Homo sapiens: one gene and its partners. The protein of the gene in region 1 purifies or fractionates together with the protein of each later gene. This does not show direct contact. Each region holds a gene or a part of one and is shown in the gene's direction. Other genes may lie near its edges.

Region 1 (6,778 bases):
ACTATGTGCTACACACTGCTCTAGGTGCTTTACCTGTAATAACTCATATAATCCTCACAATGCCATATGAAGAAATTTATTTTATTGTCCCCATTTTGTAGATGAAGGAACTGAGGCACAGAGAGGTCAAATAACCTGCTGAAAGTTACATAGCTTGGGAGAAAATTCTGTGCTATGTAGTCCAGCTCCAGAGCCTGTGCTTTTTAAATCAGAAAACAAAGAATAATAATTAAGTACAATACCAATATGTTTGCAGTGAGTTTGTGTTAATACAAGAATTTGATTACTATTAAATTCAAGAGCATGTTTTAAAAAATTCATCTGTTTTTTGGAAATATATGTATGCAAATTTAAATTCATTTTCCCCTTTTAGTTTTTCAGTTATGGGACAAAAATATTATATCAAAACACTGAAGCTTTGCAATCTAAATTCTTTTCACCTCTTCAAAAAGCGATGCTACCACCTAATAGTTTTCAAGGAAAAGTGGCATTCATTACTGGGGGAGGTACTGGCCTTGGTAAAGGAATGACAACTCTTCTGTCCAGCCTAGGTGCTCAGTGCGTGATAGCCAGCCGGTAAGTCCCTTACATCAAGCCTATTGGCGACGCTTTTGAAGAAACTGTTCTGTGCCATAGTATTGAAAACACTGTTCGCCAGAGTTGTTTGATTAGCATCTTAATCTTATATGAAATACTAGAAATATTATTTAGATTATTTAAATACATCTTTTTGGAAAAAGTTAGGTACTATTTGAGATGAAAGAAACAATGAAAATTGTGGAACTGATGTTTGGGTAAACATCCGCAATTTTCATTATTTTAATTTCTCCAATTCAGTGGTAGAATATTTCTTTTTCTGTACACGAAGATGAAGTTAAAAAGTACGACATGGAGCCAGGTGGGATGGTGTGTGCCTGTAATCCCAGCTACTGGGAAGCTGAGGCAGGAAGATCACTTGAAGCCCAGAATTTGAGACCAGCTGGGCAACATAGTGAGACCTTGTCTCAAAAGAAACATTTTTTTTTTAAGCACTATATGGAGGTTGCTTTGTCTTCAGTGGGAGTGATTATGGTTACTGCTTTAATTAATAATTAACCTTATACCAGGAAAATTGATGCAGTACTTTCATTTTATTTTTTATTTTTTGTGAGGTGGAGTTTTGTCCAGCTCTTGTCGCCCAGGCTGGAGTGCAGTGGCATGATCTCAGCTCACTGCAACCTCCGCCTCCCGGGTTCAAGCAGTTCTCCTGCCTCGGCCTTCCGAGTAGCTGGGATTACAGGCGCCTGCCACCACACCTGGCTAATTTTTTGTATTTTTAGTAGAGACTGGGTTTTGCCATATTGGCCAGGCTGGTCTTGAACTCCTGACCTCAGGTGATCCACCCGCCTTGGCCTCCCAAAGTGCTGGGATTACAGGCGTGAGCCACCGCGCCCAGCCAGTACTTTCATTTTCTATAAAATAAACAGGTATTTCAAAATATCTGTTATTGTGATGAATATAGGAAGGGTAAGACCATGTGGAAGGAATTTCTTCTTATTAGGCATATTCTGGTACCCTGTAAACTCTGTTCCAAAGTCTGAGGCTTTAGAGACTGGTTTAAAAATCCACCCCTTCACCATTTTGAATGGTGTAAAATTTTAGGTAAGCCAAGTAGTCATCCAAACAACAGTTACTGTGTCATTTGCAATTGCAGATTGTCCGGAATATTTTTTGTTTTTACATTGTAATGTTTTTAAGAGTTTAAATATATTATTTTCATTTTAATAATAATTTCTATTCATAGTTTTTTTTGTAGAATGTGAGACTGCATGAATAAATGTAGTCTCTTTGAACCCATAAATTTAGTACAAAACCTACTAACATTATACCATGAATATATTTTCTTTGTAAACCTGGCTTATCAAGGAAATAATTTAAATCTGTGAGTAGATAATGTTAAAGTAAACTGGTTTAAAAGTGACTAATTCAATAAGTTAGTATCAAATATATAAAAATGATCTAAATTTGACTTTTAGAAAAAATTCACATTGATTTTTGTATATAAATAACATCTATACTTTCTCAGAAATGCTTTTCTTTAAGCTATGGATTCTCTGTATTCTTCAATTTATGAAATTGAAAAATATAATATGAAGTCATACAAGGTGTTTATTTCTAGGAAGATGGATGTTTTGAAAGCTACCGCAGAACAAATTTCTTCTCAAACTGGAAATAAGGTACATTAAAAATCAGTTATTTAATTTAGATTTAGGAATTATAACATGTTCAAATAATTTGTTCATGCGTTTGGTTTAAGAAAGCTGGAAAATGTCATATTCTTTTTGTTATTTTGCAGGTTCATGCAATTCAGTGTGATGTGAGGGATCCTGATATGGTTCAAAACACTGTGTCAGAACTGATCAAAGTTGCAGGACATCCTAATGTAAGTGTAGCAATGATGAAGCCAAAGTGCAAGACACTTGATGTTGATAACACCCACCAACATGTACAAAGGAAATAAAATATTGATACTGATGTAGGACAGGCAAGCCCGAATCTGGGGCTTAGCCTGGGAAGGTTCTTGGCTTCACCCAGGAAAGAATTCAAGGATGAGCCGGTGGTAGAAGAGAACAGCTTTATTGAAGCAGCAGCAGTGGAATGGATCTGTGACTGTTCCTTCAGAGCAGGGCAACACCATAGTCAATGTGCTGGGCATAGCAGTTGAGAGGCAGTTTTATAGTCGTATTTATACCCACTTTTAATTGCCTGCAAATTAATTAGGTTTATGCAGAAATTTCTAGAAAAGGGTTGGTAACTTCTGAGTTATCAGTTCGTTGCCATGGAAAGGGCAGTAACTTGCTGACATTGCCATGGCAATGGTAAACAAACATGGTGCATTGGTGGGTATGTCTAAAGAGGGGGTGCTTTCATCCAGGACCTGGTTTAACTAGTCCTCATTCTGGTCCTGTGATGGAACTCTGCCTCCAGAGTTAGGCCTCCTCCTACCTCAATATGAGCAAGTGCTGTGTTGAGAAGCACCTATTTTCCATCCCTAGGAAAATGCCAGTTCTGCTAAAGCAAAGAACAGAGTAGGAAGACTGCTACACAACTTCCTTTCAGGAATACTTAAAGAATCCATTTATGATTGATCAGAAAACAAACTTGATTTCACTTTATTTAATAAGATTATGAAATAACAAGAGCAGTTATCCAAGAGTACAGCATTGAGTTTAAATGATTGATGCTTTTTGCTTCTCCTAGTAACTTTTGATTGTCTTCCTCAGTGGAGGAGAACGATATAAACATGAAAAACTATAAGAAATTCAAAATTTCTCCTTTTAAGACCTGAAATATGCATGAATATTTTGCTGTTGCTTGGTACATTTATCGGAGAGAAGCCGTTTCTTCCAGTAGTCTCAAAGATAGCACTTTTCTATGTTAAAGGTATTTTCAGAACCAGTAACACTGAATCTCCTGTAGAACTAGCCAGAATCTTTACTGATGGTAAATAGATCATCAACCACAAGCTGCATTGGTTAAGTTAAACTAAAATGACACCAGAAACAAAAAGCCATTTCTTGAGATTCTTTGAAATAAAATGCAGTCACATGGTAAATATGTTTAATCTGTATTAATTTTCTTTTTTTTAACTTTTAAAATTTTATTCATTTATTTTGAGACAGAGTCTTGCTCTGTCACTCAGGTTGGAGTGCAAGTGGCACAATCACGGCTCAGTGGAGCCTTGACCTCCTGGGTTCAAGCGATACTCCCACCTCAGCCTCCCAAGTAGCTGGGAATACAGGCACGTGCCACCACACCCAGCTAATTTTTAAAACAAAATTTTTGTAGAGATGACGTCTCGCTTTGTTGCCCAGCCTGGTCTTGAACTCATCCCAAAGTGCTGGGATTACAGGCATGAGCCACTGCACTCAGCCTTAGTTTTCTTAATAAGAGAATCTACCCTAATTTAAAGACGGCTTAGGATTCTGAAATTTGGTAACTAACGTAGGAGGTTTTCACAGACTCAGACTACCAAATCTCATGGTATTGTTTCGTAGGTAGCTGTGGACTTCAACTTTATTGTATTATTTCTATTAATACATTTCAGAAAAAAAACCCTGCAGGGAAAATGTTTTTCCTCATCTAAAGTTTCTGTAACTTGCCTTGTTCATTTATTAGATTGTGATAAACAATGCAGCAGGGAATTTTATTTCTCCTACTGAAAGACTTTCTCCTAATGCTTGGAAAACCATAACTGACATAGTTCTAAATGGCACAGCCTTCGTGACACTAGAAATTGGAAAACAACTAATTAAAGCACAGAAAGGTATGTTTATTTGCTTTTCTCATATTTATTTGGCTTCTGTGTGTGCAAGGTTCTGTGGTAAGCTCTGTGATACTTTAAAAGTCAATGAGACAGTCTACACTTGTACAACTCACAGTGTAATGGAGAAAAATGATATTTAAATAATTATCATATGTTACAATTTGAGCAGTAATAAATATATGTTTCAAGTGCATTGGCAATCCAGAGACAGGAATGACTAACTCTCCCTAGGGTCAGTGATCAGGTTGAGGAACAAGATGCAACTTAAGCTGAAAGTTCAAAGATCTAGATGTGGAGAAAGAGGAGGGAAAGGACATGTGAATGTCAATGGATAGAGGCCTGGTGGAGAGGAGGACATAAGTACATAGGGAATGATGAAAACTTTGATGTCATTAGAGATGGGGAAAGGAATAGGAAATGATTTTGGGAAGGTGGGTTGGAGTGTAATTGGGAGAGTTCTCAATACCAAAATAAGGAGTTTAATGTTAATTCTGAAAGAAATAGGAAGTATTTTTGTATAGATTTCCATTGAAGGTGGAACAAAGAATGCGACTTGATTGGAAAGGTTAGTGACAACAAGATGGATGATAAAAGGAGTGCCATTCAGGAGGATTTGATTTTTCTTTTAGCAGGTGGCTAGATTGCATGGGAGATAAAGTAGAAGACATTTAGAAGACAATAAGATCAACAGGCCTTATTGATTTGATGAGAGTATTTTTAGATGGGATGAAGAGTCTGGATGATAATACCAATGAGATTAAGAACACTGGAGGGAAAATAGATTTAGAAAGAACTTACTAGGAGAACATTTTTGTTAGTATTATGAATGAATTACTTTATAAAAGTTCATATGTACATGGATAGCAAACATGTCTAATGTATATATGTGTGTATATTCATATATATCTAGAACCAGCGTACATTTATTCACCTGACAGACACTTACTAATGACTTTTGGGTAGCAGGCCCTATACTCATGCTCAAAGCACAGAGGTGGACAAGACCCTGTCCCTGAATAATTTGGGGAACTTGAAGGGTGCGGGTATTTTCTCAGAGAAGGTGGAGAGTATTTTAAACAAGGAAAATGAGGAAGCGTTCTCATGCTCCTCAGAGGATGTCCTTTGAGGGTTGAGGGGAGGAAAGAGGGCATGGAGCTGGCTAGGTTCCTCCCTCTGTTCAGAAACCTTTGCCTTATAAGGTTCAATTTCTTCTTTTGTGCAGCGCAGGTGATCCTAGAACCAGCTTGAGATACGCTGTAGGAACAGAGAGATGCTACAGAGGCACTAGCTCTGTGTGTGTGTGTGTCTGCTCACATACATACACTAATAGCTTCCATCCTTTCTATGCACTCATTGAAATTGAAATTCCTGGTTACTCATTTCCATGATGGCAGAATGGATGTGATTTATAATTGGATTTTGGATAAGTGTTTTATTTGATGTTTTTTTTTTCAGTGAGGGGCAGGAAGATGGATAAGAGTGGGAAGGGGGGACAGGGAAGAGTGTGACTCCTCTCTCTTCCCTTCTCTGTCCGAGGAACCTTGATCTCTGTATCTCTCCTGTGTCTCTGCCTCTGTCTGATTTTCTCTCGCCCTACCCCTTGCTGATATCTCCATTTCATTCTCTACTGCTCTGCCTCTGTCAGCTCCTCATTTTTGGTTCTCTGTTTCTCTCTTCATCTGTCTCTTTCGTTTCTTTGTCCTTCTTTGCCTCTTTGTCTCTTATTTCTTCCCTCGCTCATCTCTGTGACCCTCAATTTCTGTCTGACTCTCCCTTCTTCCCTCATTATTGTCTTTCATTTTAACATAGACTCTGATCTATTTTTGTTCATCACATTGGATTAAAATTCTATGAGCTTCATTAAAAATATATTAGATAAAATATCTTTTTAAAAGATGGAAGCCAGTTTTTATTCTTCCAAGATTCCTGTCAGTTATTGATGCTATAAGCTGACAGAGTTTGGAGAACTTGGACCACTCAGCTGAGGGGAGTACGCGGTAAAGGATTTGTTCTGGTACTGGATCGACAGTCAAGGAACTGAAGCGTGACATTTTTAACAATATCATGTCTTCCAGTCTCTCAATGTGGTATCTCTCACCATTTATTTAGGTCTTCTTTAATTCCTATCAGCAGTGTTTTGCATGGGCATTGTACATGTTTTGTTAACTTTCTCCCAAAGTATTTAAATTTTTGGTGCTATTGCAAATGGCACTGTTTTCTAAATGTTATTTTCTAGGTGTTTTCTTGTAGTATTTAGAAATACAATGGATTAGTTTTGTGTATTGATGTATTCCCTAGGAGCTTGCTAAACTCACTTAATGGTTATTACAGTTTTTTTTTGTTTAGATTCCTTTGGATTTTCTGCATTGGTAATACTGTTGGTGAAAAAAAGACAGTTTTTATATTTTCCTTCCCAACTGATAAGCCTTTTATTTTCTTTCTTGCCTTATTTTATTGGATGGGACCTTCACT
Region 2 (6,778 bases), on another chromosome or scaffold:
TAGGCTATAAGGCATAGTGGGGACTGAGGCAAATCAGAGAGTGAACTCAGGTCCCCATCTCTAAACGGCAGTTCCAGCCACTTGTTGCTATGCAGTGATATATGAAACAGTGTTGCCAAATTCTTAAGGAAAACCATACATCCAGATTCTTAGCGAAATCACCCAATTTAAAAATAATTCGACAAAAACTGTTTTTTGAGTGCTATGTGCCAGGCACTCTTCTAGGCAATGGGATAAAAGATTAAAACCAGCAAAATTCTCTGCCCTCATGGAACTTATGTTTTATTGGCTAATGAACAAATAAAATGTATCATGGATCAGATAGTGATCAGTGCTGTGAAGAAAAGCAAGCAGGGGAGTGAGGAATAGGGAGTATTAGGAGTGAGGCTGTGATTTTGAGTAGGGAAACTGACATAGTTGTGCATAGGCTGGACACAAATGCAATAAGGATGCCAGTTATTAATATCAGTCCTGCTGTGAGCATCCAAAGGACCCACCCAAGCCAACACAGAGAGCTGTCTATCCGCCTCCCTGGGCAATGAAAAAGGCACCTGATAAGGTCTGCAGCATCACTGGCCTCCCCATCAAGTAGTTGCCCTACTCAGAACCACAGCCTTTCTCCTAACAGCCCTGATGAAGGTTCCTGTGATTCTAACACTTTAAGAATCCATGTGTTCTTGCTTTTGTCATGGAATGGGGCTCACTTTGTCTTTTTGGATTAATGATGATGGCCCACACAGGCGGAGAGGGGTCTGGGCTGGTTCGTGGCCTGTGCCCTCAGATTCCTTCCTCACCCATTCCCTGCTCTGCTGTCTTCCTGTGGAGTGGAAGCTGACCCATTCGGCCTGTTTCCCAGGCCAGATGTCAGCCGGCGCCCAGCTACGTTTGCTCAGTGGGAGTCTCTACTGGGAGATAAAAAGGGAGAAACCAGAGTATTTCTCCTCCTTCTCCACCCCATCAGATCCATACTACTAGGAGCTTCTCTGTGGCTTTGGCTTCCGCTACACAGGCCACCATGATTCTAGCTTCTACCCAGTAACCTAGGTATCTGAACTTAGGTAACAGGTAATTCTCCCTCTGTGTCTCCTAGGGTGCTTACTAACCTCTAGGTTGCCTCTCTGTCCCCTGCTGGCATCTCAGCCCCTCTGTTATCTGTGCAACCAATCCCTTGCATCGAAGTGCTTCTGCTCTAAATACTCTAGTAGTTTCTGTTTCCTGTTTGACTCTTATTGATACAGTGTCACTTGCCGTTAATTTGGGGCCTCTGGGATAAGGAGAACTCCCTAATAAGCATCTTCTCTCAGTGTTTGATGGGAATATGGGGCCATATGGGATATTGGTACCAGGCTAAAGCAAATCATTTAACCCAAATGAACCTGTTTCTACAGCTATAAAATGAGTATAAAAATATCTTTTCCATCTATTTCCAGAGTTACTATAAGTATTAAATTCTTTAAAACCATGAAAACATTTTGTAAAGTAGTATACATACCCTACAAATATAGTAATAGCATTATATCAGTGCTCATCTCAGCTTCATTCTTTCTAGCTGTGTGGTCACAGGCCAACTTAGCCCCTCTGAAGCTAATTGTGGAAGAAAATAATAGTTCATATATTAATAGATTGTTTTGAAGTTCAAATGAGATAACCAATTATAAAACTGTTCAATGTTAGTACTTGGTTGGAGATGGTAATGGTTAGCTTTACTGTAGTTTTACAGTAAAGTTTGGGTAAATTACTTAACATCCCGTGAGCCCTTGAATTCCTCAACTCTAAGATGAGAATAACAATGCCAATGTGAAATTAATTAATTATGCATAGATACTTGTAAACCTTTTTTTTTTTAAATATACAAACATAAAGGTATTATTTTTGAAGAGAACCTCTCCCTGAAATTATATTTTATCCTGGAAACAGCCTGGGTCAGAAACTATTGTCCACTCTCCTGGGCAAATGATGGCATACCATATTCCCCACATAGCATGGGCTTCAGGCTCACCAGATGTTGGGGACTGATTCCAAGTACTTGGCAGGGAGGCCAGTGCTGCCGCAGACCTTATCAGGTGCCTTCTTAATTGCTCAGGGAGGGAGGAGGGTAGACAGCTCTCTGTGTTGGATTGGGTGGGCCTTTGGATGCTCACAGCAGAACTGATATTAGTAACTGACATCCTTAATCAGATTTGTGTCCGGCCTGTGCACACAGGTTAGGACCTGATAGCCTGGCTTTGAGTCCTGGCTCCACTATTCACCCGCTGCAGTTTGGGCATGTTACTTAACCTCTTGTTCCCCAGTTTCATCTGAAAATGAAGATTAAAGCCCTAACTTCTTCACAGGGTTATTGGAGAAATTGAATGAATGAATCCACGTAAAGCATTTAAAATAACACCAGACAAATAGAAAGTACTCTGTTAGGTTAATTGTTATGATCAGTATTTTCTTGTAATGAGAAAGCAGGTTTCCAACATTAGCATGTATACCCACTACATGAAGTGGCAAGAAAAAAACTGACCTTTCAAAGGACTTACAAATCCCATAGCCAGAGGCATTCTTGTTAAACCTTTGTCTGGGACTTGAACTTGACCAAGGTTCCCACTGAATGTTGAAAATTGGTTTTTGTAGCCACAGGCCAAAATCTCCATCTAGGAACTGATTGGGAGCATAGACTAATGGAGATGGGGTGAAGGAGGGCTACTATTGTGTTCCATGTCACAAGCAAATGCACTAAAGATGTTAAATTTTAAGAATCAAGACTGTATTAACTTAGCTGCCTTATTCTCTACAGCAGTAGAGAATTCTGGTTAAATACATTTAAATAGAGCTCCCTGGAGAACTAGAATAGTTTTACAAATCCATCTCTTAAGCCTGAATTTTCACAGTGGTCCCGTGGTTCAAATGAGTGGTTATGGATACAGATGCTATGAAAACAAGTGATCCCTGCACTAGAACTGGTTTAATACATTGTGGCCCAGCTTTTCTCCAGGAGATCCTATTAGACGAGGTCCTCATCTCTCTGCCCATCTATTATGGCTCTTGTATTCCTTGTCATTAGAGTAAAACTAGGTTTTACTCTGCATATCTCCTTTCTCACAAATATTTGTAGAGTGCCTACAATATGCAAGGCGTGGTACATCTAGGTACAGAGAGATACAGCGGTGAACAAGAGAAACAGTCCTTACCCTGTGGGGCTTGTGGGTGGAGGTGGGAGTTTAACACATCATTTAATTGTAATTACAATAAGTATTGTGTTATGAAGGTACAGCGTGGGTAAGAATATCACAGGGAACCTATTTTAAGTCAGGATCCTCTCTGAGGAAGTAACTTTTAGGTTGGAGCCTGTTAGATGAATAGGGAGACACCAGGCAAAGGCAGGAGGAGAATGCTCCAGGGAGAGGGAGCAGCAGACACAGAGGCCCTGGCGTGGAAATGACCATGGCATCAAAGGAAACAGCAGAAAGCTGCAGAGCAGGTGCTGTGAGTGTGGCTGGCAACGTAGGTAGAAGCTCAGTGGTGCCTGCATCATCAAGGGCAGGTTAAGAACTTGATGAATGAATGCCTTTAGGCAGCAGATTAATTAACACAGTTAGATTGGTGTAGAGTGCCCTATATATGCTCTCTGGACAATCCCAACCTCATTCACAGCTCTAGTCTCCCCTTATGCTAATGACTCCCAAATTTACGCCTCTATGCCAGTCCCCTGCTGAGCTCCAGACCTGTGTGCCCAACTACCCAATGGACAGTTTGCTCATCTGTATCAGGAGGAGATGAACTGATGGACACATGAGACCCCTTCCAGCTCTAGAGTTATCTGACTTTAGGGGTTCCTAGAAAGGAGGGATCACTCAGGAGGAGGAGGTGGTGAAGTTGAGCCAAGCCTTGAAGGATGATAGGTGTATCATGGGGGACTTGGCTCTCCAAGTCAAGCTGGAGTCCCTTCTTGGCAGCCTTTCTTTCCTTGCTGTGGACTTTGTGCCTGGAGAACAGGCCAAGAGCACAGGTTGCTCGTGCCATTTTATAGATCTCTTTTCTGCTGCAGAGACCCTCCATTCAAGACCCAGACATACTTGCAAAATCCTATGTTTAGGTCACAAATGTCAGTTGAACTAATTTAGAGTAGATGAACTGGCTTGCTATCAAATCACCATCACTGGACTAATGGTTACAAAATCCAACTCCCACAACAGCCTCTGAGTTCTTCTGAGATCTGGCCCCTGCCAGAACACCTTTTTTGTGTCCTGCTTGACAGTCTTTGCTCCAGCCACAACTATTTGTAATATTTGTACTCACAGTCATCATACTGTTCTTGACCCCTCCTCGTTTACTCTTATGGTACCCACTACCTGGAATATCCTCCCCAAATGATCAGAGCATTTACTGCATTGTACAATAATTTGTGTAATACTCCTCACCATCCTCCTGATTATCCCTATCATATTAATCTCCAAATCTGTACCACCTGGCAAAGGTTTTCGACAATGTTTATTCCATGAATTAATAAAGTAGTGACTGAACGTCCGGTTGGGTGATCTGTGACCACCTCAAAGTCAGCTTGACCTCCCCAAACATGTTATCACATACACCCATGCCCCATAAACTAACCTAAGTGGTCCTTTCCTGTGTTCCCATACTGCCCTGGCACTCCTTGCCCCCTAAAAATATCATTAGATGATAACATTCTGTTTTCCTGGCATCTTCCCTTATAGCACCTGTAACAATGTTCAGCACATGGTAGATACTCAGTAGTTGTTGGTTAAATGAATAAAAGAAGAAAAAGACCAAAGGAAAGAGCCAGTTAGCTCTTTCTCCAGTGAGATCTTGTTTTTGGTCTTCCCATTTGTAAAAGAAGTAACTGCGTAAAATGACTTCTGATACCTCTATTCTGAATTTGATATGGGCATACAACTGTCCGCCCAAAGTATCTAACACAGTGGCTAAAGAGAGAGGTTACAGACTGGGCAACATTGCAAGACCCCATCTGAAAGAGAGAGAGAGAGAGAGAGAGAGAGAGAGAGGAAAAGAAAAAAAAAAAAAGCAAAGACACTTTGGAAGGCTGACATAGGTGGATCGCATGAGCTCAGAAGTTTGAGACCAGCTTGGGCAACGTGGTGAAACCCTGTCTCTACAAAAGAAGACAGAGAAAACAAAATACAAAAAAAATTAGCTGGGCATGGTGGCACACACCTGTAGTCCCAGCTACTTAGGAGGATGAGGTGGGAGGATCACGTGAGCCCAGGAGGCTGAAGTTACAGTGAGCCAAGATTGTACCACTGCACTCCAGCTTGAGCAACCATGAGACCCTGTAAGAAAGAGAAAGAAAGAGAGAGAGAGAGAGGAAGGAAGGAAGGAAGGAAGGGAGGGAGGGAGGGAGGGAGGGGGAAACGAAAGAAAAAAAGAAAGACAGAGAGAGGAAAGAAAGGAGGATAAAGAAAAGAAACAGAGGTTTAAATGCTCACTTCACCCCCCATAGCTTTAGAGAACCTTGCAACGAGTATTAGACTGGAGTAGACTAGAGTTTGGGAACTGGAATTTTTGTTTCAGTTTCACCATTCAGTAGTTACATCACTTTGAGCAACTTAGTCTCTCTGGTTCTTCATTTTCTCCTTGATAAAATTAGTTAGATTAGGTAAACTTTAAAACCATTTTAGGTTCTGAACTTCTGTGATTCACAGGATAGTGTTTCTGGAATTTAAAACATTACAAGTGCCAAGGGTAGGTGCGCTCTCAAATGAAAGGGGAGTTCTGGAATTCTCTGCAGCAACAGAAAGAGCAAAACACCCTAAGTTTACTTAACAGTTTGCTACTGAAGGCTCTTTGGAAGTGTCAGATTCACCAGATGGAGGGCTTCACAGCAGCCTCAGAATGATTCAGCACGGTGCCCCACAGTCAAGGCTGACTTGCTGCCTCATGATTCCTGGTCTGGCGCAATTTCCTCTACCCCATGTGAAGGGGGATTTAAGTACAAACTTGGCACTCAGGGTTAAAATTACAATATTAAGGCCGGGCACAGTGGCTCATACCTGTAATCCCAGCACTTTGGGAGGCCGAGGTGGGCAGAACACCTGAGGTCAGGAGTTCGAGACCAGTCTGTCCAATGTGGCAAAACCCCATCTCTACTAAAAACACAAAAATTAGCTGGGAGTGGTGGCGTTCGCCTGTAGTCTCAGCTACTTGTGAGGCTGAGGCAGAAGAATCACTTGAACCTGGGGGGTGAAGGTTGCTCTTAGCAGAGATCACACCACTGCACTCCAGCCCGGGTGACAGAGCAAGACTCTGTCTCAAAAATAAAATAAATATTAAATATGCTCATTGAGACTACACTTGCCACTCACAGCCGTACAGTCCTGCCTTCCTCCAGAGACACCTTCTGTCCCCCTGGGAGTCACACCCTCTTCCCTAGTTGTGAATCTTCAGTCTAGGATATTATATGAAAACCTATTTGACCAGTCTAGGGCAGCCAGGTTCCCTACCATGTGTCTGTTTTTCATAATCATTGTTAGGAGACACAGCACCTTAATCAAATAAATATCTGTTGCACTTCTCACATGTAAAGCTCTGTGGTATAGTTTCTGCCCATAAAGGCTTTATTGCAGATTGTTAAAACTATAATAATGTTTCATTACCAGATGGTAAAATTAACATAGACCAACTTTCCTTCTTCTAATGGGATGGAATAAAATTCACTCCAGTAGAGTAGAAGAGAAGAAAACAGGATAGGGGAAGGAACAAAAAAAAAGCCAGGATGCATCTCATCCATAAGGGTAAAGCATTACTTTGTGAAACT
Region 3 (6,778 bases), on another chromosome or scaffold:
TAGTAGAGATGGGGTTTCACCATGTTGGCCAGGCTGGTCTGGAACTCCTGACCTCAGGTAATCCACCTGAATTGGCCTCCCAAAGTGCTGAGATTACAGGCGTGAGCCACTGCGCCCGACCATGTCATTTTTCTTTTATCTTGGTATATAATATATTTTTACAATATAATACATTTCAGTTTTTATGTAGTCTAACCTGTCCTTCTTTTTCCTCATAGTTAGCACCTTTGATGTTAAAATTGTAGCCCAGGAGTATAAAAATAATCTATTTCTTTTTGTTGCTTTTATGGTTTTATGTTTTATGTGGCTTTACAAGTTATAAGACTTTAGTTTTTTCACAAATGGTTATCTACTTAGCCAGTAGTATTCTTGTTTATTCCTGAGCAGAATATATATTTTGTTTTTATTGTGACTGAGATCTTTTTTCCACATCATCTTCTGAAACTGGTTATTGCTGTTTTAATGGAAAACAGTTGATTGTTATATTTATCTTATATGATTTAATTTCTCATTATTTTTTTATTTGCTTGAAGTTTTGGAAAATAATAGTTGTCTCTAAATAGTAATCATTTGAAAGAGTTTTCTAATATCTGTGCCACATTTCTATTTTCTTGTTTTCTTTCATTGGGTAGAACTTCCAGAGCAATATAAACTAATAGCAGTGAGGGTAGTTTCCTTATCTTGTTCTGTCATTAATGAAACTGCCTCTAATATATCAGTGTTAAGTTTAATGTTTATTATTCATTTCAGTAGACCGTGTGGTACACGTACCCTTTTGTTACTAGAATAGTAACTGTTTTTATCATGATCAAATGTTGAATTTCCATCAAAAACCACTTTAGCATCTAGTGAGATAAACAAGGGGTTTTTCTTTTTAATCTCTTAGTATTAGTCATAGATTTAATAATGGTACCATCCTCACATTTCTAGAATGAACTTTTTTTTGGTCATGATGTACTATTCCATTAATTTGGTAATGTGTTGTTTGGAATTTTGCATGTATATTTATTTATACAGTTGGTTGGTATTATTATTTGTGTGTATGGTGATTTTTGTTTGTTTTGACTTTTGGGTTCTTTTTAGGCAGGGTCTTCCTCTGTCACCCAGGCTGGAGTGTAGTGGCATGATCATAGCTCACTGCAGCCTTGAAGTCCTGGACTCAGGTATCTTCCCACCTCAGTCTCTTGGTGAGTTGGGACTATAGGTGCATACCACTGTCCCCATCTACTTAAAAATTTTTTTTTTTTTTTTTTTGTAGAGATAGGGTCTCACTTTGCTGCCCAGGCTGGTCTCGAACTCCTGGGCTCAAGCGACCCTTCCACCTCGGACTCCCAAGGTGTTGGGACCACAGATGTGAGCTGTGATGCCTGGCCCATGTGTAGTTTGTGACAGGTTTTACCATCAATGTTATGAAAATAAATGGAGAAATTTTGCATCTTTTCTAGCATAGAAATGATCTATTCCTTGAAGGTATGATAGAAATCATCTTTAAGATTATATGGATTCAGTACTGTTTGAGGGGAATCATTATTGGACAACTGTTTTCTGCCTCAGTTATTCAGGTTTTTTTTTTTTTTTAAGATGGAGTTTTGCTCCTGTTGCCCAGGCCAGAGTGCAATGGCACGATCTCAGCTCATTGTAACCTCCGCCTCCCAGGTTCAAGCGATTCTCCTGCCTCAGCCTCCCAAGTAGTTGGGATTACAGGCATACCACCATGCCCGGCTAATTTTGTATTTTTAGTAGAGACAGGCTTTCACCATGTTGGCCAGACTGGTCTCGAATTCCTAACCTCAGGCGATTCACCCACTTTGGCCTCCCAAAGTGCCGGGATTACAGGCATGAGCCACCATGTCCAGCCCCTAGGGAGAATTTCTTAAGCTGATACTCTTTTCTTTTTCTTTAAAGAGTCTCACTCTGTCACCCAGGCTGGAATGCAGTGGCCCTATTATAGCTCACTGCAGCATTGCTTCTCAGCCTTTTGGCTAAGATCAAGTGTATAGCTCACTGTAGCACTGAACTCCTGGGTTCAAGCAAATCCTCCCACCTCAGCCACCAGAGTAGCTGGGACTACAGGCATGCACCACTATGCCCAGGTAACTTTTAAATTTTTTTGTGGAGACAGAGTCTCACTATGTTGCCCAAGTTAGTCTTGAACTCTTGGCCTCAAGCAATCCTCCTGCCTTGGCCTCCCAAAGTGCTTGGGTTATAGGTGTGAGCCCCCATACCTAGCCCTTAAACTGATACTCTGTAAGGATCTTCTAATTCACTAATTAGGTTTACTGCATTATACAGTCTGCTAGCTACCATCTTCATTATCTTCATTGGGTGTTTTACTTGGGCAATTGCATTTTTCACCTCTAAGAAAGTTATTTTCTTATTGTTCCTTTTTTATGATAGCTTATTCTTGTTTTATCAGCAAGGCCGTATCTTTTGTTTTCTCCTGTTTCTGACAACAGCCCTGTCTGAGCACAGAGACTAGTCCTCTCCTTTTGAATTGCTAAGTATTTTTGTGTCCAATTATTGTTCATCTGTTTGCTTATATTTTTGGAAGGATGTTTGCATTTGTTCTGTAGCTGAGATGGGTTCTTTCAGAAATTGTGTTGGTTTCTTTTACATTTTTGGTTCCAGAAGAGTCTCTCTTTGATAGCCCAAAGCCCACTGGTGCAATAGAACCCACCAGTCAACCTATTGCATCTGCCAGCACAGCACTCCGCTCCACATACAGTGTGTGAATTGTGCAACAGGCCCAGGGCTGCTCCCAACCATCTCTAGTGACACCACAGAGACTACAGGAGACACAAATTTGTCCTCCTACTTCTACCTCCAGCTCTTAGTCAGGGGCCACGTGTGAGGCTGGTATGTGTGGGCTTGCGGGGTCAGAAGGAGGGAAATCCCGAAAATACCTCTGAGTTAAATGCTTTTCTGGTCCACTCTGCTCTATATGTGTTGTTTCTGCTGAAGCCTTTCAAAGGGCTAAGACCCTTCTTTGGAATCTAATAGTGCTATTTTGCCAAATTGGACTTCTTACTGTTGTTGAATCTTTTTTCTCCTTCTGTCCTGTTGTCTCTACCTGAAGTACAATCTTCTTAATCTCCATTTCCATCTGTGAGAATTCTACTCATCAGTTACTTCCCAGCTTAATGCCACTTTCTTTCAGAAACTCCCTGAGATTCCTTCCACCATCAGTAATCGTCCCTTCATCACATGTTCTGCCTTACATTCCAGCTTCGTACATCCTCATCACCCTCTTCCTTTTTGCACTGTGAGCTCTTTGAGTTCAGGAACTGTCTTGTTCACCTTTAGATGGAGGGTGTTGGAATGATGAGGTTAGAGGAAGCCAGGTTTGAGTCCCTTCAACATTTACTCGCCATGAAACCTTGCACAAGTAAGTTACTTAACCTCTGAGTGGATTTTCCCCTCTGGAAAATGGGCATTACAACAGTACCTACCTCATGAAGCTGTTTTGAAGATTAATTGAGGTAACATACCACAGTAAAGGTTGAAATAAATGTTAATTCCTTTTTCTATACCCTTACGGTACCCTGCCCATGTAGCGCCTCATCCACACAGGCCTTCAGTGATTGGTGATTGAATAAAAAATACAGATCCAAAGTGCTTTTGTACAAAATTCACTTTTGCATTGTTGAGTCAATGGCAGATCCAGAAAAGAATCTGGGGCTGGGCGTGGTGGCTCACGCCTGTAATTCCAGCACTTTGGGAGGACAGGAGTTCGAGACCAGCCTGGCCAACATGGTGAAACCCTGTCTCTACTAAAAATACAAAAATTAGCTTGTCGTGGTGGCGGGTGCCTGTGATCCCAGCCACTCAGGAGGCTGAGGCAGGAGAATCACTTGAACTCGGCTGGGGTGGGGAGGAGGGCGGAGGTTGCAGTGAGCCGGGAGGTTGCAGTGAGCTGAGATCGTGCCACTGCACTCCAGCCTGGGTGGCAGAGTGAGACTCTGTCTCAAAAAAAAAAAAAAAAAATCCGGGGCTGCTGAACATCCCACACTTGTGCCCACTTGCACATGCCGAGTAAGTGGAACGTTTTAATTATGTTTCATAAAGTCTCTAGAATTAAGTAGGGTTTTGTTTTAACAAACAAATTGTACTCCTTATATGAAAGATAAAATTCTATTTGGTGGTTGATTGGTTGGATTTTCAAATAAGCAGTTGCTTTCTGGTTTGCCTTGACATTTTATAAACATAACTACAGATGGAAGCTCAAAAGAGAGGCAACATAGTGTTATAGTGGAAAGATTTGATTCAGAGTTAAATTTTAGATGGTTGTTGACTGTTAACTCCTCCCCAGACAGACTTCACAAATCCCTCAATCAGTGATCGTGTTAATTCTATATATGGTTCTTCCTCTGCTTTTGTTATATTGAAGTGGCATGTCATCTCCCTTTAGAGAGTCTTATTTAATAGGTAGGAAAATCTCATACCTGATTATGAAATTTTGACTAAGCTGGGGATCTGATTCTACCTTTTTGGTGGAAGGAAACTTTTGTAATTTCTTCTTTCATTGATTATTAAACCTGTTTGGGGAGGTAGGGGTGTGTGTGGAGGGGTGTACCCCATGGAGTAAATATGCTTTCTAGGAAATTTTCTTCTTTTTTTCATCTCCCTCTAGGCCTGCACTGCCCAAAGTCTTGGAAACTTGCTGGATATGATGTACCGGGAGCCAGCACGATGGTCCTACACATTCCAGACATTTTCCTTTTTGAGCCGCCTGAAAGTACAGCTGGAGCCCTTCCCTGAGAAACTCTTACAGGCCAGGAAGCCAGTACAGATCTTTGAGAGGTCTGTGTACAGTGACAGGTAAAATGCCAAGCCCTCCACCAGTCACAAGCCCCATGCTCAGTGCTGCCTGTTTGATCTTGCACAGATCCTGCACTGCTATGGTCACTGATGATTATAATTTGAAAAATTATCTTCTTTTTTAAAGACAACACTATACAGATTTGTCCAGAGTTGTACTTCTACCAGATTGTCATCTATGTCAAGAAAGGAAATTGGGTTTTTCATCAACTGAATGCTTTGAATTTCTTACATTGCTACTGATTACCTTATGTTTCCTTATTTTCTGGCATGGAGCAAGCTGGTAGCCACCTAATGTAACCATCACATGCTAAAAGGCACATAATAGACACTTAAGTAGCAGTGTATATTCTAAGAAATCAGATGATTCAGTGGTTGATTATCCCCTTTAAGAAAAAAGCAGACGAAATTAAAATTTGTGTTCCTGAAAATGATATAAGAGATATTTTCAGCCTTTTTTTTTTATTGTTCAAGAAAGGATGCTTAGGCAGAAATAGCACATCTGAGAAACTGGCTTCTGTCTCAGATTTAGCCCTTTTTGACCCCTTCTTCTGTGAGAGGGCTTTTTGCTGGCCAGAGTCTAGTGGACATCAGTGCCTGTGTCAGATCAGGGATGGGCATCATCCTGACCACCTGAGGGAGTGAGATGTGAAGTCACTTTGAATGCAAGCTAGCAGCACCCTGGGAAGTGAGCCCATCTGCTCCAGAAGAGCTAGGCCGTGCAGGCTCCGGAATGCCTGGCTCTGCTGCAGAGACCAGGCTGTGACTTGAGGTTAAGCCGCCTAGAGACAAAGTCAGGATGGCTTGATCTGGACACTGCTGGAGTTTTTCTTATCTGAAGCCTATGAATGACCAGTGTCAGTGTGAAATAGTGCTTTCAAGCAAAACGATCTTTCTTAAGGCTCTTTGAATTATCAAAATGGGAAGTGGTACATTTTCATTGTCACTGCTGAAGACACTCAGTTGGTTACTCTTTTAATTCCAAATTAGACAAACTAGTTCTATTTCTTAGTGCTTCCGGAAAGCCTCCTAGAAGAAAAAAAATAAGGATACATTTGTAAATGACAAGTGATTTTTCTGACTTTACCCTAAAATCATGGAAGATATGTAAAACAAACCCTATAGGCTATCCGTTCCTTGTGTACGTACCCCGAGAGAGCCTACTTTTTATAAAAGCTAAATATGTGAATTACAAATGGCTGGGCTATAGGTTTTACTTCTTTTTCAGCTGTTGGATATCCCACCTGCCTGTTTTCCTCTCTTCTCTCCCAAGCCATGCCTCTCGGACTCCGAAGTTGAATTACATATAACCACATGGGTTGTTTGGAAACATAGTCAGTCTTTATTTCTAGCCGCTTCATGAAGTAGGTGTGTGAGACCCTCAGAGGAAAATAGAGAAGTAGAAACACTTTGTTAATTAGAAATGCATTAAGAAGCTGCATGGATCTTAACCTTTGCTTGTAAAGGAAGAGGTAATAATTGATTACACTGTGGGCATACAACATTCCAGGTGCTATCTTCAGTGAGGGCATTTTCGAGACAGAAAGGAAAACTAATCACAAGTTCTAATCCCGAGGGTAATTTAGACTTTGTTCACTTGCACAGATTTATTGGATGCCTCCTGTGTTGAAGCACCAAGGCTGGCCCTGGGGCTGCAGCAGTGAATAAGGCAGACCCAGTCCCTGCCTAACAGGGACTGAACACATGCTCACGTGTGTGATATTTGTTCCAAAGGAGGAACACAGGTTATCTGGGAGAGTTGATTATAGCGAGGAAGAAATCTTAGTCTTTTCTGTTTGAGTTAAAGGAAACATTAGCATATGGTTTTAGAGCAGAGGCCCTGACTCCTAGATCCTTATGCCCTGTTCTGTCCTGCAGCCCCTGCATTCAGTCTGCAGTACTTCCCTCCCACTCAGCACCACACCCTTCTGCCCCTCACCCCATCACCACCACAAGCTTT
Region 4 (2,769 bases), on another chromosome or scaffold:
TGGATTTTGGGGTATTTCAGATTTTAGATTTTTGTATGAGGAATGTTCAACCTGTATTTGAACAAGCATTACCAAATATCATTGAATATTAATATCTTTTGCGTAAAAACTGCTATTATCAGCATCATAGTTTCTCTAAAAAGAAAACTTGGGGATCATAGCCGATAGAGAGACTTGCTAAAATATAAATCAGCCTCTGCAAAACTGTTTACATATTTATTGGTTTACATATTTTATTGGTTTATTTCTATCCCCTGTTCACTTTTTCTCTTCCACTTCCAATTATGAAGAGAAAATATTTGTTCAGGGTTGTCCCCCCGCCCCCCGTCACTGCATAATTTCTCCTCTTACAAGCTGCTTTTGGCTTTCATTAATAACAGCTTCCTTTTAGAAGGTCTGATAAGGATATTTAAGGAAGAAGAGAATGACTCTGTTATTAAAGGTGGCATGGAGACTGTGGAGGGAATATTTTTTAAAGCACTACTCATATCCTTTAAACTAAATTTTGCCAAAGCCCGAGACAACATTAAGGAGAAATTGTACCTTAAGTTAGTAATTCCAAATCTATCTGAGTTGTATACCCATCAAAGACAATACAGTTATTAACATAGATGAAGGTATGCTATAGGCATCATTCATTATCTCTATATTGAATAGGTGAAAGATAACTGTAGTCAGGTGAAAGGCATTCATTATTTTTAAGCTGAAAAGGGGATCCTTGAAAACACTGAAAACCTCTACAACAATCTTCAGGAAGCCTGCTATCTTGGGATTCACTAATAATAGGCCAAGAACAAAGGCAAGCATCCATTCCTCACTCCACCACTTTTCTATTTCAGTGGGTGTCGTTGCTACGATGAAGACTTTGGAAATTTCCTTTCTCTTTTAGGACAGGGTCAGGATTTAGGACTCATAGCCTGAAAGCTCATTACATACTCCTTGTAACCATCAGTCCAAGGTTCAGTTCACTAAAGTGCATGTTCTAAAACAAGAGCTATCCTCATTCCAAATTTTAAAATATGTACTCTGGCCGGTTGCAGTGGCTCACGCCTGTAATCCCAGCACTTTGGCAGGCCGAGATGGGCGGATCTTTTGAGGTCAGGAGTTTGAGACCAGCCTGGCCAACATGGTGAAACCCCGTCTCTACTAAAAATACAAAAATTAGCCAGGCATGGTGGCATTTGCCTGTAATCCCAGCTACTCGGGAGGCTGAGGCAGGAGAATCACTTGAACCTGGGAGGCAGAGGTTGCAGTGAGCTGAGATTACACCACTGCACTCCAGCCTGGGTGACAGAGTGAGACTCCATCTCAAAAACTGAAAATAAAAATAAAAATATGTATTCTCCTAACTGAAATATTTACTTAATCTGGAAAACAATGTAACTATTTTTAAAGTGGTTACATCTATTCTTGCTGAAGAACAATAAACAGAATTTTTTGACTAAGCATAACCAAATTTCAGAACAGTCTAATCAATGCCAAGTATCCAAGGCAAACTCTAATACCCATCCATTGTGCAAAACCACAAGCACGCAAGTATTAAATAAGAGCAAGCTGTCCTGAGCCCATACCTAATGAATTTGTGTCTTAAATATTGTACATTGTGTTTGAGGCTTGTCAAAACTGGGATTATGGCAAGAAAGGTTGCCTAACTCATACCTTTCTGCCTCAAATTCCAGGTGCTAAAGGCTAATGGCATTTTAAACATCTTACATTTTTAAAAATTTATATTGCCTCTGCCAAACAGGCCTAATAGTTAAAAGCAAGTTGAGACAAACCAGGCAGATTCAGTGTGTGGAACAGGAAGGATGTGCTTTAAAAAAAGGTGGAATCCCTCAAAAAATTCTATAGGGAGACAGCAGCCTTAATCTACATAATTCTTCATCTCGCCAATTCAGCCGCAGCCTTTAAAGAGTTAGTGTTAATGGCTTTCTGGTTTGAAAACAAAAATGCATCTATGTGGTTGAAAGTTTGGGAGGAGATTCACCAATATCTGAGGAGAAGATGGAGTGAAGGGAATTCTTACTTTTTGCTTTATACCTTTCTATAATATTTAGATTTTTTTTTACTGTAAGTATGGATCAAATTGCAAAATAAAGAAAAATGCCAACCTTAGAAAAGACAATAAATGCACAAAAGATATAAACAGGAACAGCAAATATTTATATTTTTTCCATTTTGCTCTTTTTAAATCTATGTTTAGAACTTTATATCTTGGGACTTATGTATATATATACCTTTTAAATAAAATAAATTTTCTAAATAAAAAGTTGAAAAAGATACCTTTTGTTTTTTAAGAAAGAGGTTGTAACCACTTATAGCCCTGGTATTTCTGTAACTGCATTGGTCTAATTTTGATTCTATTATGTCTTCATGAGTAAATGAACCAAAATCACCACTCAGTCCCTAAAGGGCAGAAATCTATAATAACATTAGAAGAAAGAAAAGGCCAGTCACGGTGGCTCACACCTCAGCACTTTGGGAGGCCGAGGCAGGAGGATCACTTGAGCCCAGGAGTTTAAGACTAGCCCTGGCAACATAGTGAGACCCTCAACTTTACAAAAGAAAAAATTTAAAAATTAGCTGGACATGGTGGTGAACACCTGTAGTCCCAACTACTTGGTAGACTGGGGTGGGATGACTGCTTGACCCCAGGAGTTTGAGATTACAGTGAGCTATGATCATGCCACTGCACTCCAGCCTGGACAACAGAGCAAGATCCTGTCTTGAAACCACCTCTGCAAAAATTATAAATGAGAAAATCATTAC

Evidence for each region.
Region 2: the proteins of DECR1 (region 1) and HEBP1 fractionate together in Homo sapiens (co-fractionation; one large-scale study listed by BioGRID). This does not show direct contact.
Region 3: the proteins of DECR1 (region 1) and DGUOK fractionate together in Homo sapiens (co-fractionation; one large-scale study listed by BioGRID). This does not show direct contact.
Region 4: the proteins of DECR1 (region 1) and POGLUT3 fractionate together in Homo sapiens (co-fractionation; one large-scale study listed by BioGRID). This does not show direct contact.

Annotation. Positions count from the first base shown.
Region 1 is NC_000008.11:90,016,751-90,023,528, forward strand, and holds part of DECR1 (2,4-dienoyl-CoA reductase [(3E)-enoyl-CoA-producing], mitochondrial isoform 1 precursor), read left to right. Parts: intron 1-373; coding exon 374-576; intron 577-2,158; coding exon 2,159-2,216; intron 2,217-2,335; coding exon 2,336-2,422; intron 2,423-4,158; coding exon 4,159-4,306; intron 4,307-6,778. UniProt on the Homo sapiens protein: Auxiliary enzyme of beta-oxidation. It participates in the metabolism of unsaturated fatty enoyl-CoA esters having double bonds in both even- and odd-numbered positions in mitochondria.
Region 2 is NC_000012.12:12,991,718-12,998,495, reverse strand, and holds part of HEBP1 (heme-binding protein 1), read left to right. Parts: intron 1-6,778.
Region 3 is NC_000002.12:73,942,089-73,948,866, forward strand, and holds part of DGUOK (deoxyguanosine kinase, mitochondrial isoform a precursor), read left to right. Parts: intron 1-4,630; coding exon 4,631-4,818; intron 4,819-6,778.
Region 4 is NC_000011.10:108,471,616-108,474,384, reverse strand, and holds the end of POGLUT3 (protein O-glucosyltransferase 3 isoform 1 precursor), read left to right. Parts: 3' UTR 1-2,269; downstream 2,270-2,769. UniProt on the Homo sapiens protein: Protein glucosyltransferase that catalyzes the transfer of glucose from UDP-glucose to a serine residue within the consensus sequence peptide C-X-N-T-X-G-S-F-X-C. Can also catalyze the transfer of xylose from UDP-xylose but less efficiently.